Linked DNA regions of Homo sapiens: regions 2, 3 and 4 are each reported to be linked to region 1. The links are microRNA targets in miRTarBase. Many come from high-throughput screens and were not tested one by one. Region 1 holds a microRNA gene; each other region holds the end of a gene's coding sequence. Distances are from middle to middle.

Region 1 (4,000 bases):
GATTGCAGTGGGCCAAGATCGCGCCATTGCACTCCAGCCTGGGCAACAAGAGTGAAACTCTGTCTCAAAAAAATACATAAATAAAACAAAATATACTCTATGAACACCTACTTTGCTGTCGTCGTAGACAAGCGCTGTCCAATAGAATTTTCTGGGTCATTTTTTTCCTTTCTTTTAAACATTTCAAATGTTTGTACAAAGTATAGACTTTGGATTTAGTAGAACAAAAAAATGTGTTTTGCTAAACATTTTTGTTTTTATGAGCAAGTTTCTAATTTATAAGAATTGAAAAGATTTTTTAAATTTCTTTTGAGATTTTTGTAACCAAAAAAAAAAAACACTGAATTTTATGAGTAGACTCCCTTTAATATTTGAATAATAAAAGTGGTGACAGGTGCTACCAGAGTACTTTTCAATCTTTGTGTCAGCTTCTAATAAGTAGCTGCCCTAATTATTTTGAATTGTTGGAATGATAAAAATAAGTTTTATGGCAAGGTAAACTTTATATCATAAGTATCATTTATATCATAAATCATTGTTTACCTTGCCATAAAACTTTCTCTGTTACTTGCAGTGTAGTCTAGATTCTGTGTCTCATATTACAGACTCACATGGTCCCAGTATGCACGTCCACATTTTTTTTGTTGTTTTTTAAGAGACAGGGTCTTGCTCTCTGCCACCCATGCTAGAGTACATTGGTGTGATCATGGCTCACTGCAGCTTCAAACTTCTGGGCTCAAATGATCCTCCCGCCTTGGCCTCCCAACGTGCTGGGATTATAGGCATGAGCTACCACACCCGACCCCAGATCAATTTTTTAAACTAAAACAAGATAATAAATCATTTAATTTAGCTAAAACAGGTTATCAGTTTCTTTTATTAAGCTCGTTTGGAACACATGGATTTTGGTGTTATATTATCTCAATATGGTTATGAATTGTTCTTAATTCCCTGCGTGCAAGATGATCATGTATGTTTCTGCTGAGTTTGCTGTCCTATACTGTGTTAAGCCATCAAGATACAGGATTATCTAACTTATAAAATGGGAAGGGTTGTTCCTCTCAGAACTTTGGATATTCAATGAGATAATGACTATAAGAGCTTTGATCTGTAGAGCACATTACAAATTTGGTAAATTTTTGAAAAATGTCATTAACAGATTCCTCCAGTCTGTATGAAGCTGTAAAATGTTTTAGAATCTTTTTCCATTTCACAACTCCTAAATATTAGGACAAATTCCAGTATAGTGAATTTTAAAGGAACGTTTAAATTGTTTTTGAATAAAAGTAAGACCTTACTTGGAACTTAGGGACTGTTTCTTTCTTTGTGTTATTTATGCATGGTGAGTTATTGAAGGGAAGATAGAGCTACAAAGTGTCTCTCTGCTTTCCCTTAAGTATGGTTGTAATGAAATTTGAACTATATTCAAATTTTCATGGTTAAAAACACTTCTAGAACAATTAGGTTGAGATCAGTCTCAGGAAAAAAAAAAAACCTGTTACTAAAAGATATTGTGAAGGGAGTCTTTTGGTTCTTTATTTGCTTTCTGAGTGCTGTTGAGTAATGAAGTTAATAGTAGTTTTTTCTTACTCAGGACTTAGATGGTAATCTCCTTGACTCCTGGGAAGGGGTAAGAGTGCAATGCCTTTGGTGCTTGAGTGATGGAAAGACTGTTCTGGCATCAGATACACACCAGCGAATTCGGGGCTATAACTTCGAGGACCTTACAGATAGGAACATGTAACTATTTTTTGTTTCCATTAAACAACAATTACCTGATTTATATTCAAATGTGTAGTGGAACTTGCCTTTTCACAGTTTTTATGTTTTTCGTTTTGGTTTGCGTGGTAATTTGGATTGAAGGTCACATGGTACTTAGTAATCAGTAACTCAGATTCTTCTCAATTGAAGTATAGTATGTAATAGTGATTGCAGGCAAAATTGTCATACTTAAGCTAGCACATCTTATGTATTGATAATTTGAATGTCTTGACTGTTAATATGTTGTTTTTGACAAATTATTTTCTGGTTCCAGAGTACAAGAAGATCATCCTATTATGTCTTTTACTATTTCAAAAAATGGCCGATTAGCTTTGTTAAATGTAGCAACTCAGGTATGTTTATTAGTATAATTTTCTGAAAAATTTGGCTTAGTACAAGTTTTATTTTAACTGTTATTTTCAGTGTATTTATATTAACAAAATTTTCTACTTACCCTTAAATTTGATTGCATGTGATTGATCCTTAAATGTGTATAATCAACCATAAATTTGTCAGAATGTTGGTATTTTGCATAATAGAAAATGAAGATATTTCATCAGGCAAAGGGATATTTACAGATACTTTTTAAAATTTGTTTGAGTTGAGGCAGATTAAATATCTGTATTCTCCTTTGCCTGCAGGGAGTTCATTTATGGGACTTGCAAGACAGAGTTTTAGTAAGAAAGTATCAAGGTGTTACACAAGGGTTTTATACAATTCATTCATGTTTTGGAGGCCATAATGAAGACTTCATCGCTAGTGGCAGTGAAGGTAAATTGTGTCCTTATCAGTTTACATATGTTGATATTAAAGTCTGTAAATCTCAATTTATGAAGGCAGTCATGTCTCCAAGAAAATTCAGGGTAGTAAGTTAAAATTCTTTCATTTATCCAATACACGGTTAATTTCTCTCTGTAATGACCTAAGCCCCTGTATTATCACAAATTGTCACATGCTGTCATGTATTACTTTCTCCTTTTCTGTAATGACCTAAGCCCTCCATATTGTCATGTATTGTCACGGATTAGCAGTGCTTATTCTGACCACGTAGCAGTGTGTTTGGTGCATGTGTCTAATCAAGATTTAGTTAAATTATTATACTTTCATATGTTGACTTGTATTTTCATGGGACTGATGGTTTTTAAGGGTTGGTAGTATCTGAAAAATCAAGGTTAATTATGATGCTCTACCTGAACTTGGACAGATTTGACTATAGTTAGTTCTTCAGTATTTCTTCAGCGGTCACCAGAGTTATAATTGAGTTTGATAATTCTTAAGATTTTAGGAAAGCTGAAATTATTCTTCCTACTACTACCCTTTTGAATAAACTTGTTCTCTAATCTAAAAGTGTCAGTATTCCAGACAGGAATATGCCTAAAGTCACTCTAAAGTGTGAATTGTTTAGAAGATGCAAGCACAAATAAGTGAGGCAGTAATAAAAATTAGTGTACTTTTTAAGGCGATAGGAACTTAACTAGTGGCAAATTATTGCAAGTTTTTATTCAACACATTTTTCTTCAATACCCACTGTACATTTCTAGGTACTATAAAAGCAAATTATTTAAGTCACTTTTTTTGGCCGGGCATGATGGCTTACACCTGTAATCTCAACACTCTGGGAGGCCTAGATGGGAGTACTGCTTGAGGCCACGAGTTCCAGACCAACCTGGGCAACATGGCTAGACACTGTCTCTACAAAAAGTAAAAAAATATATACTGAATCTGGTTTTATAAGATAGACCAAGGAATTAGATTATGTTATGTTCCATTTATTGTATAAGATGTTTACTATCCCTATCTTGACAAAAAACTGATCTTGGTAGATAAGAGGATCATAAAGTGCACATGAGGTTTACCTTTAAGAATAAGGCATATTTAAGGATTGGGACAAAGAGAGACATTTAGAGATTTAGATTTTAACATCAAGCATATAAATTCATCTATTCCTTTTCTTTTCTTTTCTTTTCTTTTCTTTTTTTGAGTGCAATGGCACGATCTTGATGCAACCTCCACCTCCTGGGCTCAAGCAGTCCTTCCCTCCTCAGCCCCTCAAGTAGCCCCAACAAATTTTTGTAGAGATGGGGTTTCACCGCGTTACCCAGGCTGGTCTTGAATTCCTGAGCTCAAGCAGTCTACCTGCCTCAGCCTCCTGAAGTGCTGGGATTACAGGCATGAGCCACCGCGCCCAGCCTGAATTCATCAATTCTTTCTTTCTACCGAAAATCAGCGTCAGATGAGA
Region 2 (4,000 bases), not on the chromosome of region 1:
GCAAAGTAATATACACACTGCAAGAACTCGGCAAGTACCTATAGAATGTACGCCTGCATCTATGTTTATAAGGGAAAATTAGGCCTACAGAAGTCTGGAAAGAACAAGGGCATGGGGCAAGGGTGGGGACAGCATCAGGCATGGCCGCTGTGCATCCCGTGGGCGCAGTCTACATGTCGTAGAGCCGGAGCTGCTCCTGCACGTCGCCGTCGGACATCTCGCCAAACGTCTCCTTGTTGTCTTTCATGAGCTTGAAGATGGCAGCCAGCTGTTCCTTCTGAACTCTGTCGAGAAGAAAGGACAAAGAGGAAGAAGGTGCTCCTAGCCCACTGGGGAGAGAGGGAGCCTGTGTGCAGCCGGCGGAGTTGGGACTCTCCTCTCTCTTGTGTGACTGCGGTTGCTTTTCAGAACAAGAAGAAAATGAAAATAAAACCCACTTAGAACATCGGAGCTGGTTGGGTCTGACACACGCAACTTTTGAGGGCTCTAAAAACTGGGATGCGAAATCTCAGGTTTGCCGGGGAGGTTTGGGGACCCCAGGTATCACTTAGGTGCTCTGTGCCTCAGTTTCCCTTTGGGCCTCATTTGATTGTTGACTGCATGTCCCACAGTGATGTAATGAGGAAGAAGATAGGCTCCATGAAGCAGCTTGAGGTAGTGCTATGAAGAAGTAGGTTAGAAACAGCCTTCGTTGAGAGGAATGAGCCGAAAGTGGAGAAAGAAAAAACATTATCAGCTGGGAAATCAGGGAGCATACAAGTGTGTGCAAGACGGTGCTTGGCAAAGGAGCGGGGAGGGAAGCCTGTGGGGTTTCACTGGCCAGAGAAAGGGGGGTGCCTTTTCCTAATTTGCACAAGATACCCTATGGCAGGTGGCGGCCCTGCCCCTTTTATCAAGGGATGGGTGTGGAGGAAGACTGGCCTAAATGTTTGCTCCACGCGGGTTCTGTGCTGGGAGCAATGTCTTGTTATCTTTATGAGGCTCAGCTACACCATCTGACCAGCACAGGACAACTTCTGCAGCACAAACACCTCAGGTGGGGCGAGGCGGCTGCCGAACCCAGGGAGCCATATGTTTGTTGTTTGCTCCACTCTGGTGCCCTGTGCTCCTCAGCCCAGCCGGGCACTGCATCCTGGCTGCATCTCACTCTTCTGGTTTCTGCAGTTCCTGCCCCCCACACACCACGGGCTCAGTGCCTTCAGAGAACGTAAACCACATCACAGTGTCGGACCTCTCAGCCCTGCTCTGCAGCTGGGTCGGCTGTAAGCACGTTACAGGCTCTGCAACCGCAGGACCTCAGCATAGCCCTGGGCCACTGGCATCCCCCACACTGCCTGGAGGGGTGGTCTCCACGTTCGCTCCCATACTTTTGCTACCATATTCCTTTGCTTCACCCTTCCCTCCTCTCCTCAGCCCCGCATCTTCCATCCTGCAAAATTTTCTGTCTAGAGCAGCATCTAGTAGTTGAAATACTGAAGTCCCACTTCCCAGCCTCCCTTGTCCCCTGGGAAAGCTGTGTCTACAGTCGGTTCCCCTGTCTGGTGAAGCAGCAGCCTATGATGTGTGCTTTGTGCCCTCCTGTAAGAAGAAAGAGGGTCAGGTGCAGTGGCTCATGCCTGTAATCCTAGAACTTTAGGAGGCCAAGATGGGAAGATCACTTGAGCCCAGGAGTTCAAGACCAGCCTGAGCAACATAGTCAGACTCTGTCTCTATAAAACAATTAGCCAGGTGTGGTGGTGAGCACCTGTAGTCCCAGCTACCTGGGAGGCTGAGACGGGAGGATCACTTAAGCCCACGAGGTCCAGGCCACAGTGAGCTGTGATTGCACCACTGCACTCCAGCTTGGGCAACAGAGGGAGGCCCTGTCTCAAAAAAAAAAAAAAAAAGAAGAAGAAGAGGAATTCCCGTGAACAGAAAGGATGTGCTGAGCTCTGTGGATGGAAGCACAATCCATATGTCCCTGAGTGAACACAGATCATGTCATGTGGTTTTGACAGCCATGGTGACTGCATATTTTTTAACAGGGTGGATGTATGGCTTTGTACTCTGCTGCAGAGTAAGAGGCATCAAAATGAAAGAAAGGTCAAACTTCAATGGGTTCAAAAGGGATTTTGTTTTAAAACAAAGCAAACTGAAAAAACACACAGTAATTGAGATCATCTACTCAAAGTTTATTGGACTGAACAAAGGCTGAATACAGAGATCCAAGCCATGAGGAGTACATGAGGTGTGGTGCCTATAAGCCAGGGTCGGAAACTTTCCAGACAAACCTAGATAGCTCTACTAGGAGGGAGTCAACGACCTATTGTGTCAATTAGATCCCAGCCTGGACAAGGGCATGACTATTGCTGTTTGGGGACACGTGGCTCTGTGTTGAAGGCAATGACTGTGTGGCTGTTGCCATGTGGCCTGTTCTCCCCTAAGCCCTGAACCAAAGGTTCCAGGCCCAGATGAGAAGGCCCCTGGGAATGCATGCCATAGGGGTTGATGCTGGACATTCCCCAGCCTTCCATTAAATGAAAACATTTTCTATAAACTTACTGCTTTAAAAAAATGTTTTAACCAACAAACCTAAGAACTGCAAATGAGTTTGGTATAGTATAAATATTGTCAAATATAAAATTCCAAGAAACCCATTTGAGACTGATCTGATGATCTGAAGTTCTAACTAATCTATCAAACTTTCTAAGAAAAGGCATAGGTCAAGAAATCTTTTTAAAGCAAACATTATTGCTTCTGCTATAGCAGAGTGGAGATTTGGCTGAGCTGGTAAGAACCTCAGTGAAAAGGTGTCTTAGCAATGAAAGGGCTGAATCCGAGATTCCTCTAGATGAAAAATAAGGGGAATGGTCAAGTAAATTCCTGGTACTGGTTCTTTGCTGCCCTGTAATCAATATGGCATCTCACCCCCGACAACCAAGCCAGCCACAGAGAGAAGTGGGGTTCCCAGGGAAAGGGGTCGGCTGACCACCCTGACGGAGCTGGTGAGCACAGGTGAGCTCTACCTCATTTGTCTCTCATTCCTCAAAGTCTTCTGTGGTTTGGCTTCAGTGAGGGCAAAAGAGGGGAGACTGGAGTGAAAGTGAACTCTGCTTTTAAAATGTTCTTTTTATCTAAGGTGTGCAGGGTGTGTGGATAGCAAGTTTGAGTGGTAAGAAAAATCCCAGTCCAGGGTCTGAGCTCTACCTCTTAAAACTCTTCAGCTTAACAAAGTGACCCACAGGAACAGACATGAACATCTCTACACAGGGCAGGGCCAAAGGTGTTCCCAGGATCCTGCTAGCCAAGGGACAAGTCCTGATTGAGGGTCTAGAGCTCAGCAGATTTATGGAGGCAGCATGCACCCTGGGAGCCTGCCCAGACTCCTCTCTGGGGTTTCCGTTTTATCTCTCAAGCTTTTAAGATGCCAAAAGGAAAAGCCTTTAGGAGGACGCTAAGGATAACTTCGTTATTCTTCAGTTCTGTAAAGAGAAATGGGGAGAAAAAGATAATTTATTTTACTCATTCCATCCTGCACCATGGGCAAGGAAAGGGGGAAATGGGGACGAGGAAGGAGAATGTTTGGAATTGCAGAAGCTGCGCTAGACTCTGGTTTCTCAAACCACTGCTGATTTGCTTCTCATCGCTTGCAGCAAGACAGTCTGTGCCGCCAAGCCGGCCAGAGCTTGCAGAGCTCCCCTTGATCCCGCACAGAACCTGGCAGCCCACAGACCCTGTTCAGCCTCTGCAGGGTACTTAAGGAAGGAACTTGGGCATTTGAGTTGCCAAGGGCCTTTCTGATCTTGGGTTGTGTGGTTGTGCTGACAATATTCCTATCACCCTAGATAATTTCCCATTCCCGCTGGCTGAGTTTTGTCCCCTCGGGGGATACTGGCACCCTAGGATGCACGCTTCCAGATGGAGCCAACTGCATGCCCGTCTTTTATGAACCAAGACACACTGCCAGCCCTGGGACCACTGAGAACCCAGCAGGTCTGATCTTGTCCCTCTGACGCCCTCT
Region 3 (4,000 bases), not on the chromosome of region 1:
GACACGAGCATTCCAGGCAGAAGGAAGAAGAGCAGGACTTGAGGCCTGAGCAGGGACTTGGGGGCGGTAGGGGCAGAGGCAGGGCTTGAAAGTTGTGGGGTTTGATCCCGAGAACAGTGGAGATCACTGGAGGGGTGTGGCATGATGCAGTTTTCAGTCTCAGACATGTACCTGCTTGGTTGGAGGAGGCCTGGAGGGGTCAAAGTTAGAACCAGAGCCTCCTGTGAGGAGGCTCCCACAGTTGTCTGAGACAGTGGTGGCCTGGACCTTGGGCAGTGACAGAGAAGGGAGAGAAGTGGGCATATTTGTAGTATCTGAGGGAAATATACATCTAAGACAATTGGGAACATGGGGTAGAGGCAGGGTGGGCGTAGGAAATCTGGGCATCATCTGTGCACAATAGATGAGGGAGGGGAGAGTGATTAAGACAGGACAGAAGCCTGACATCCAGGGCGGGGTGGGAGGTCAGGGAGAGGACTCTGGGCTCCATCCCAGGAGCTGAGAGAAGGGTGGAAAGGTGAGCCCCCCAATCACTTTCTGGCCCCCAGTTGATCCCTACCCTGCTCTATTCCAGGACATAGACATCAACACAGATGATGAGCTGGACGCCTACATTGAGGACCTCATCACCAAGGGGGACTGAAGGCAGGAGAGAGAGCAGCTCCCCTGCCCACCTGCCCCTCAACCCTGTAGCTGCAGGGGGAGGGGACTTCATTCATGGGTTGGTGGTCGCACCTTGGTTTGACTTACACGGGACATTTGTGTTTTTGGAGGAAAAGATACCCTGATTCTTTGAATCTTCCTTAAGTTTATAAATATTTATTTTTTAAAAGAAGATGCTGTGCCTGTGAGACCATACTTTTTTTTTTTTTTTTTTTTTTTTTTTTTTTTTTTTGGTGACTGCAAAGGACAGAGAACCTTTCCACTTTGGCCATACTGGGTTGCTAAGCCGGAGCCATTTCAGCTCCTGGCTCCTCAAGATAACGGCGAGTCCAGTGCCATCTTGGAGAAGCTCCAGGGGCAGGGCTGACTTTTCTCCTACAGGAGGAACAATGTGGGGATCTGAGGGATGGGAGGGAGACTTCCCCCTAGAGTGGTGGTCCTGCTGGGGGCTCATATCCAGGGACCCAAAAGGGGGGCTGTGTAGGAGGTTCCACATTGGAGGGGCTCTCTCTCTCGCAGCTGTCAGAGTTGGTCCTGGCTGTGGCGTCCAAACAGCTTGAGGGAAAAAGATCCTGTCTAACCACCTCATCTACTACTCAAGTTCTTTCTGAAGGAGGGATTTCTTCAGTTAACCATGGACAGTGAGGTTTCTCACCACAGTAACTTGAGTCCAGGTTGAGGGGGAGACAGATCTGTGGTAAATCTCTGACTTGGGCAGCACACTGAGTGTGGAACCCCACAGGACTCCTTAGGGAAGGAGCTTGTGTGTGAAAGAACCCCTGGGGCTGAGCTGGTGACCTCCATGTGTGGGTGCAGCAGGGCCTTGGATGGTGCCAATTGATCTGGACAGCCTGTTGATGCTTTTCTACTTCCACCCTTCGGCCTGGCCCCACTGAGCCCCATCAAGGTGCCTGAAGAGGGGGCCAGTGAGATCCCGTGGCCACAGGGACTCCAGAGGCATCTCTGCAGGAAGCACACCATGCCTTCCCTCCATGTTCCATCACGGCGCCACAATCTGTGTCCCTTAACTTCTCAGGGTCAAAGACAAAGGCAAGCGTTGCTGAATTTTCTCTTTAATGGCCATTGGAAGAGTCTGGTTCAGTTTTTCCCAACTCTCTTCCCACTCGTATTTGGGGCCTCTGGGTTTTCTGAAGGCACAAGGACTGTGACTTTGTACCACTAACCTGTGGTTCAAACCTGGGTGTGTTTCTGGCATCTCCCTAACCCAGATCAGCAATGGCCACCCTGCTCCTCTGAGGTCAGCAGAAGACTGGGAAGCAGAGGTGAGGGATGCAGGCCACACTGGAATGGGAAGTCTTTTCCCCACTGGATGTGCCTGTCTGGTGGGTTTTGGACCTTCCCAGACTACATCTCTAGGAGAGGCCTGTTTGGAGTAGTACACTGAGAGACCCTGGCCTCTTCTGCTGGAAGACTGTCCAAGTCTTGGGGTTTCTTGAGCTGGTGATTCCTCTGCCATCCTGCTCTCTCTCTTCATCTCAGGCAGCATGGGGTCCACTTTTGTCCCCAAACCTAATGTTTTAATCCAAATGCAAATTGGTTCCACATTTTTACTGGAGGGTAATCAGTTTTTAAAATTCACACACATGTAATCGAAACGCAATACTATAAAGTTCTACTGGTGAGACTCCTGAACTCAGTCTGTTTTCTTAGTAAAATCCAGCACCTTCCTTCTCTTCATTCTTTGTATCACTGTGGCTTTAAACTGTCTTCAAGTTATTCCTCCTCATCACCTCCATTGTTTTATCTTCACCCCCTTAACATCCACAGAAACAGACTGGAGTTCTTGAATGTTTTAGCTTCAACTTCTACATGTGCCCACTTTGCTTTGTTAATGCTACCACAGCTGTGCTGAATGAAGCCTGTTTCCCAGGCAGAGATCCTGCCACTCTGGATGGGAAGATAAAATGCAGGGGTCCTCTTTCCTGGTTTCCTGGGAACATCAAGGGACAGGTGACCAGCTTGGAACTCTTTGATGACTTGGAAGGAGGAAGATGGTCTGGCTGATCTGTGGTGAGAAGGTCCTTTGCACAAGGCTGCAAGAAAGTGAAGGGCAGCAATGCTGGTGTTTAAAGAACGAGAGGGGTGGGGACTCTAGGGTGTTTTGTTTGAGATGGGGGTCTCGCCCTGGTCACCTAGGCTGGAGTGCAGTGGCACGATCTTGGCTCACTGATACATCTGCCTTCCAGGCTCAAGTGATCTCCCACCTTAGCCTCCCAGGTAGCTGGAACCACAGGCACACACCATCATGCCTGGCGAATTTTTTTTGTATTTTTGGTAGAGTTTCGTCATGTTGCTTAGGATGGTCTCAAACTCCTGAGCTCAAGTGATCCACCTGCCTCGGCCTCCCAGAGTGCTGGGATTACAGTGTGAGCCACCATGCCTCACCTAGGGTGTTTGGTTTTTAAGTGAAACATGCACATGGTAAACATTAAAACCGTCTAAAAGGCTGGACCATGAAAAGCAAGGCTCCCTTCTCCCACCCAATCCCTGAATTCTCCCTGGAGAGTATCCCTCCTAAGTGCACGCACTTCCACTCTGTTCCATTTCTGCCTGTTAAAACTACTTAGTGCAGCTTAGTGTAGTGGAACCTGCTTCAGAATAACCCATATGGGTCTTCTTTATTCTCATGAACCACAGAGCATTTCATGTGTTGGATATATTGTCTCCTACTTACGGACATTTGGGGTTGTTTCTGTTTTTGTTTGTTTTGTGACGGACTCTTGCTCTGTCACCCAGGCTGGAGTGCAGTGGCACAGTCTCGGCTCATTGCAACCTTCACCTCCTGGGTTCCAGCGATTCTCCCCTCTCAGCCTCCCAAGTAGCTGGGACTACAGGTGCGTGCCACCATGCCCAGCTAATTTTTGTATTTTTTGGTAAAGACAGGGTTTCACCATGTTGGCCAGGCTGGTCTCAAACTCCTGATCTCAAGTGATTTGCCCGCCTTGGCTGGGATTACAGGCATGAGCCACTGCACCCGGCCAGTCACCATTTTCATCCGGTAACTTGCAATGCACCAGGCCTTACCAGGGCCACTGTTGGGTTCAGCGGACATTTCCTTCTTCAAGCTGGCAAGGCCTCAGACAAGTCACTGCCCATTTTGGCTCCTGTTCCTCCTCTAAAATAACGGAGTTGGGTGATGGCAGAGGCTTTCCAGCTTATTCAGCCTCAGGAGTACCTAAAATTTATCCAGAAGCCCATATGGAAAGCCAGGAGTCCTGGAGCTGCTCTGGTTGAAGCTAGGATGGGGGCCCAGAGCTCCCTGCTGTTCTTGACCCCCAAATCTTTGCTTCCAAGATTCACTGGCCCCTACCTGCTA
Region 4 (4,000 bases), 64 Mb from region 1:
CTTCCCTTCCCATCTTCTGACCCTCCTGCTACTATCTCTCTCCTCCACATTATGTCACATGAAGTCTCAAAAAATCCAACTTCCAGCCCTGCAGTGCCCACCTGCACGGGGTCCTCTGTGGTTGATGCTGACTTGCATGCTGAGGGGGCAGGCTGTGGGCAGGGATGGGGGTGTCTGTGAATGGAGAAGGTGGGTTCAGAGAACTTGATGGGGAAAGCGCAGAGGCAAGTGTATGGGTGGAGGATGATGGCATCCTCTCTGAACAGTCATCCTCTCTCCCCCAGCCCTGGACACCCTATTTGTGCCTCTGCTGGTGGGTACAGGGGTGGCCCTAGTCACTGGTGCCACTGTCCTTGGTACCATCACTTGCTGCTTCATGAAGAGGCTTCGAAAACGGTGATCCCTTACTCCCCAGGTGAGGGAAAAGAACCCCCCAACCTTGTTTTCATTGGGCTTCCCACCCCCAAGTCCTGAACCAAGCTGCTCCCTCCCAGGCCCCACCTGGAGGAGGAGTAGGCAGCTCAGATCCACAGGGCCCTGTTAAGGGGTGGAGGCCGCGAGGGAGCCCCACTCAGGGCTCTCTGTCCTTAGCCCACACCGGGCACCCTTTTCAGGTCTTGCAGGTGTCGACTGTCTTCCGGCCCAGCTCCAAGCCCTCCTCTGGTTGCCTGGACACCCTCTCCCTCTGTCCACTCTTCCTTTAATTTATTTGACCTCCCACTACCCAGAATGGGAGACGTGCCTCCCCTTCCCCACTCCTTCCCTCCCAAGCCCCTCCCTCTGGCCTTCTGTTCTTGATCTCTTAGGGATCCTATAGGGAGGCCATTTCCTGTCCTGGAATTAGTTTTTCTAAAATGTGAATAAACTTGTTTTATAAAAAGCAGGCTTGGCTGTGTCTTCCCTACCATGAGACTGTAAAACGCTCAGGGTGCATAGTAGGGAGGTGGTTGGGGATTGACAACCTATTCTGGATGACCCAGGCCTCTCTTCCCACCACAAACACCATCTGGCCTCCATGGGCCATGCCACCCACCCCAGGAGGGGACACCTGGGTTCCATCTGCAGCCTGAACTGTCGGGGCTGAGACAACTCCTGATTGGACTCCTACTTGGGGAGGGAAGCATAGAAAAGGAGGGTAGGTTCCAGCTGCCTGTGGTCACCCCCGCACCAGCTTCTCCCATGTTAAAGGGCATGGGCCTCCAGGGGCAGTGCCTTTTCTGAGCTTCCCAGACTTTCCCCAACTCTTCCCACGTCTCATTCTCCTGGTCAGGCTAGTCTTGGACCTGACTCCTCCCACTAGGCCCTGGGGCTGAAATTGTTGTTCCTTCTGACCCATAGCAGCAGAATAGAAGCCTCAGAACACAACTGATACTCAGGCTGGGACAACAGGCAGTCAGGGGAGGGCCTGTGTGTCCACAGAGCCATTGCACCCACATGTACTCGCTGTACCTGCATATACCCTCTACCCGCATATACCCACTACACCTGCATATACCCGCTTCACCTGCCTGTACCTACCCTGGGGTCTCCTCCCTCCCACCCTTCAGCTTCACCCCTCCTCCAGTGCCCCAGGAGTTTCATGAATTTTCTTGCCTAAGGATTCTCTGATCCTAAAATTCTTACCTGCACGGCACCTTAAGAGGCATCTGGCAGGCCTCCTTCAGTTGTTATTTAAACATTTATTGAGCATTACGAGTTTGCTGTCATTTTTACAGATGAGGAAACTGAGGCCCAGATATGCGATTTGCCCAGAGTCATAGAGCTAATTAGCAAGTGTCAGGAGTAGGACCTAGGTCTCCTGACTTGTTGCACTGTACAGTGGTGCCCTGAGTGGTGACAGTGGCGAGGAGAGGTGTGGCAGGGTCTCAGTGACTTCAGCAGGCAGGAGGGGCCTTTCCAGACTGAGTTTCTCTGCTTGTTCAGCTGCAATGGGTTGGCTCCTGTGTGAGTGCGTGTGTGTGGATACCAAGTAGCCCACCCGCTCTTGTCCAGACCCCCCTGTTTTACTGAAACCCAAATGAATCCCCATTCTCCATCCCAACATCTGTTCTTAGGGGACCAGTCAATGCCAGGCTTCAGGAATCTCATCTTTGATGACAGGGCCCCAGTGGCCCTGTGACCTGAGGCAAAGATATCCGTGTTTTGACTGAAAGGAAGGGACTGGGACTTGGGTCCTCTCTGAGTGAACCCCAGCTGTCTGGGCTGCTTCCATGGCCCCCTTTCTTGCTTCCAGAGGACCCATAGGGCCCTGGCTATGCCCATAGGACCCTGGCTGTGCCCCATAGGACCCTATCTGCCCAGCCTGGAACAGAGAAGACTGGAGTGCTTTCCCCAGGGGGCTTATGAAAGGGCAGGAGTGGGATGTGGCCAGGGCCAAGGGAGGAGGTCCTTGCTGGGCCAGTGCTGCTGTGTGGGAGACAGGCGCTGTCCCAGGGCAGGCTCTCCTGGGCCTATGCTTTTCTCCAGGCCAGCTTCAGGTCCCTTCCACCCCTCTGCCTCTCTCAACTTGCAGTTGTTCTCCCTCACTATCCAGGAAGCTGCCGCTGGTGACTGGGATGTGATCAGGAAGCAGGTGGAGGTGGGGTGAGAATATGCGTCTTTGGGACCCCCTGGCCCAATTGGGCTGACAGCAGGCTGCAGACACATCCAGATGTTCTAACTCCTATCGCTTCTCTCCGATTTTCTCCCACATTCAATCTTGCCTCCAGTCCTACAAGGGGTTCTGTCCTTTGCCCCTAAAACTCTTCCTGCTCCACCTCCCCCCGACCTCCCCAGGAGCCCCCTCAAGTCCTTCTGATGGCTTCATCTCTCTGTCGGGCCTGCTCAGCTTCCAGACACCCCCTCCACTTGTCACTGCCCTGTTTCCATTGATGGTTGAGTTTCTGGGCCCAAAGTTAAACTCTTCAGCCTGGGCTTCGGGTCCCTTTCCCACACATAAAACCCCACCCTTCACATTTCTCTGTCTGCTCCTGTGAGGATCCTCAGCTTCTTCTCAGCTTCTCTTCATCTTCCTCTCAGCTACTCCTCAGTTTCTATGCCCCATGTCCTGAAACGACTTCCAAGTATTCACTTAGAGCACAGGTTCTCAAAGTGTGGTCCTCAGTCCAGCAACAGCAGCATGACCTGGGGACTTCTTAGGAATGCATGGTTTTGGTCCCCACCTCTTGGGTCAGAAACCCTTGGAGTGGAGCCCAAAAATCTGTGTTTTACCAAGCCCTCCAGGTGATTCCAACGCACACTGGAGATTTCTAACTCCTGACTTACATATTCCCTATGCCTTACACTGGCCCCAGCCTTCTGATCACCCACACTCCCCTACCCTCCACGGGACTGCACAGGTTGTCAGTTTGAATTATCCCTCGTTCAGTCACCACAGGTAGATTCCTCTGTTTTCCCAGGTGCCCCTTATTTTGAGGACAGGAACCAGGTTTTTGAATGTCCACTCCACATGGCACCCAATCAGTGATGTGAATGACTGTGCCCCAAGGACACACTGCTTTCCTAGGGGCTCCCTGTTTCCCAGCTCTAGTGAACCCACTTTCTAGATCTCTCTCCTGGCCCTTCCTCCCCAGAACCTCTCTCTCTCTCTTCCTGCCTGTGCCTGATACCTGTAAGATCTCACTCCACTGTAAGAAAATAGCTATCCCTGGTTTTCCTTTCCCAGGCCCCTCTCCAGGCCCCAGCTCAGGCACCTCCCCGCTCTGCCTGCTTCCCTGAACTTGCGGACTAAGGTCATTCACACCTTGCTGAGCCCCTTGCACGCCTTCATCCTGGTGAGGGTGGAGCTAGGAGGGCACCCTCCTCATGTGCCCATCTTGGTCCGGCTCCTTTCTCCTTCACTTCAGCTTGGCCTACCGTGTCATTAGACAGTTGTGCCATATGTGGGGAGGCTGGCAGAAGAGGTGACTGGGGACTGCAATCCATCCTATACTCTGCTCCCCAAGCCATGCACCCTGGTTTGGGGCTGTATCTGTCTGGAGGAAAAGGGTTCCTTTTTAAA

Evidence for each region. The annotated mature microRNA hsa-miR-4742-5p reads UCAGGCAAAGGGAUAUUUACAGA and lies in region 1 at 2,318-2,340, shown strand. An mRNA with a match to its seed (bases 2 to 7 or 8) in the 3' UTR can be bound and repressed. Matches are read on the target gene's strand: a 7mer-m8 pairs with bases 2 to 8, a 7mer-A1 pairs with bases 2 to 7 and ends in A, and an 8mer does both.
Region 2: the mRNA of MXRA7 is a reported target of hsa-miR-4742-5p. The part of its 3' UTR that is shown has no 7-base or 8-base seed match.
Region 3: miRTarBase lists MORC2 as a target of hsa-miR-4742-5p. Seed matches in the 3' UTR shown: 7mer-A1 at 1,572-1,578.
Region 4: miRTarBase lists IGSF8 as a target of hsa-miR-4742-5p. Seed matches in the 3' UTR shown: 7mer-m8 at 665-671.

What each region holds. Positions count from the first base shown.
Region 1 is chr1:224,396,629-224,400,628 of GRCh38, reverse strand. It overlaps MIR4742 (microRNA 4742), which reads left to right and starts at 2,318; the gene lies at 2,318-2,402. WDR26 (WD repeat domain 26) reads left to right here. Exons shown (of 14, transcript NM_001379403.1): 10 at 1,595-1,740; 11 at 2,036-2,114; 12 at 2,403-2,532.
Region 2 is chr17:76,677,419-76,681,418 of GRCh38, forward strand. MXRA7 (matrix remodeling associated 7) reads right to left here. Exons shown (of 4, transcript NM_198530.4): 4 at 2,148-3,461. The coding sequence ends at 3,449. Among named protein-coding and RNA genes, the nearest start is that of MXRA7, 32 kb to the right of the region's middle.
Region 3 is chr22:30,923,446-30,927,445 of GRCh38, reverse strand. MORC2 (MORC family CW-type zinc finger 2) reads left to right here. Exons shown (of 26, transcript NM_001303256.3): 26 at 575-2,316. The coding sequence ends at 643. It overlaps MORC2-AS1 (MORC2 antisense RNA 1), which reads right to left. Exons shown (of 2, transcript NR_026920.1): 2 at 792-2,717. Among named protein-coding and RNA genes, the nearest start is that of MORC2-AS1, 3.1 kb to the right of the region's middle.
Region 4 is chr1:160,088,223-160,092,222 of GRCh38, reverse strand. It overlaps IGSF8 (immunoglobulin superfamily member 8), which reads left to right. Exons shown (of 7, transcript NM_052868.6): 6 at 285-415; 7 at 615-880. The coding sequence ends at 400. It overlaps KCNJ9 (potassium inwardly rectifying channel subfamily J member 9), which reads right to left. Exons shown (of 3, transcript NM_004983.3): 3 at 1,660-4,000. Among named protein-coding and RNA genes, the nearest start is that of IGSF8, 8.4 kb to the left of the region's middle.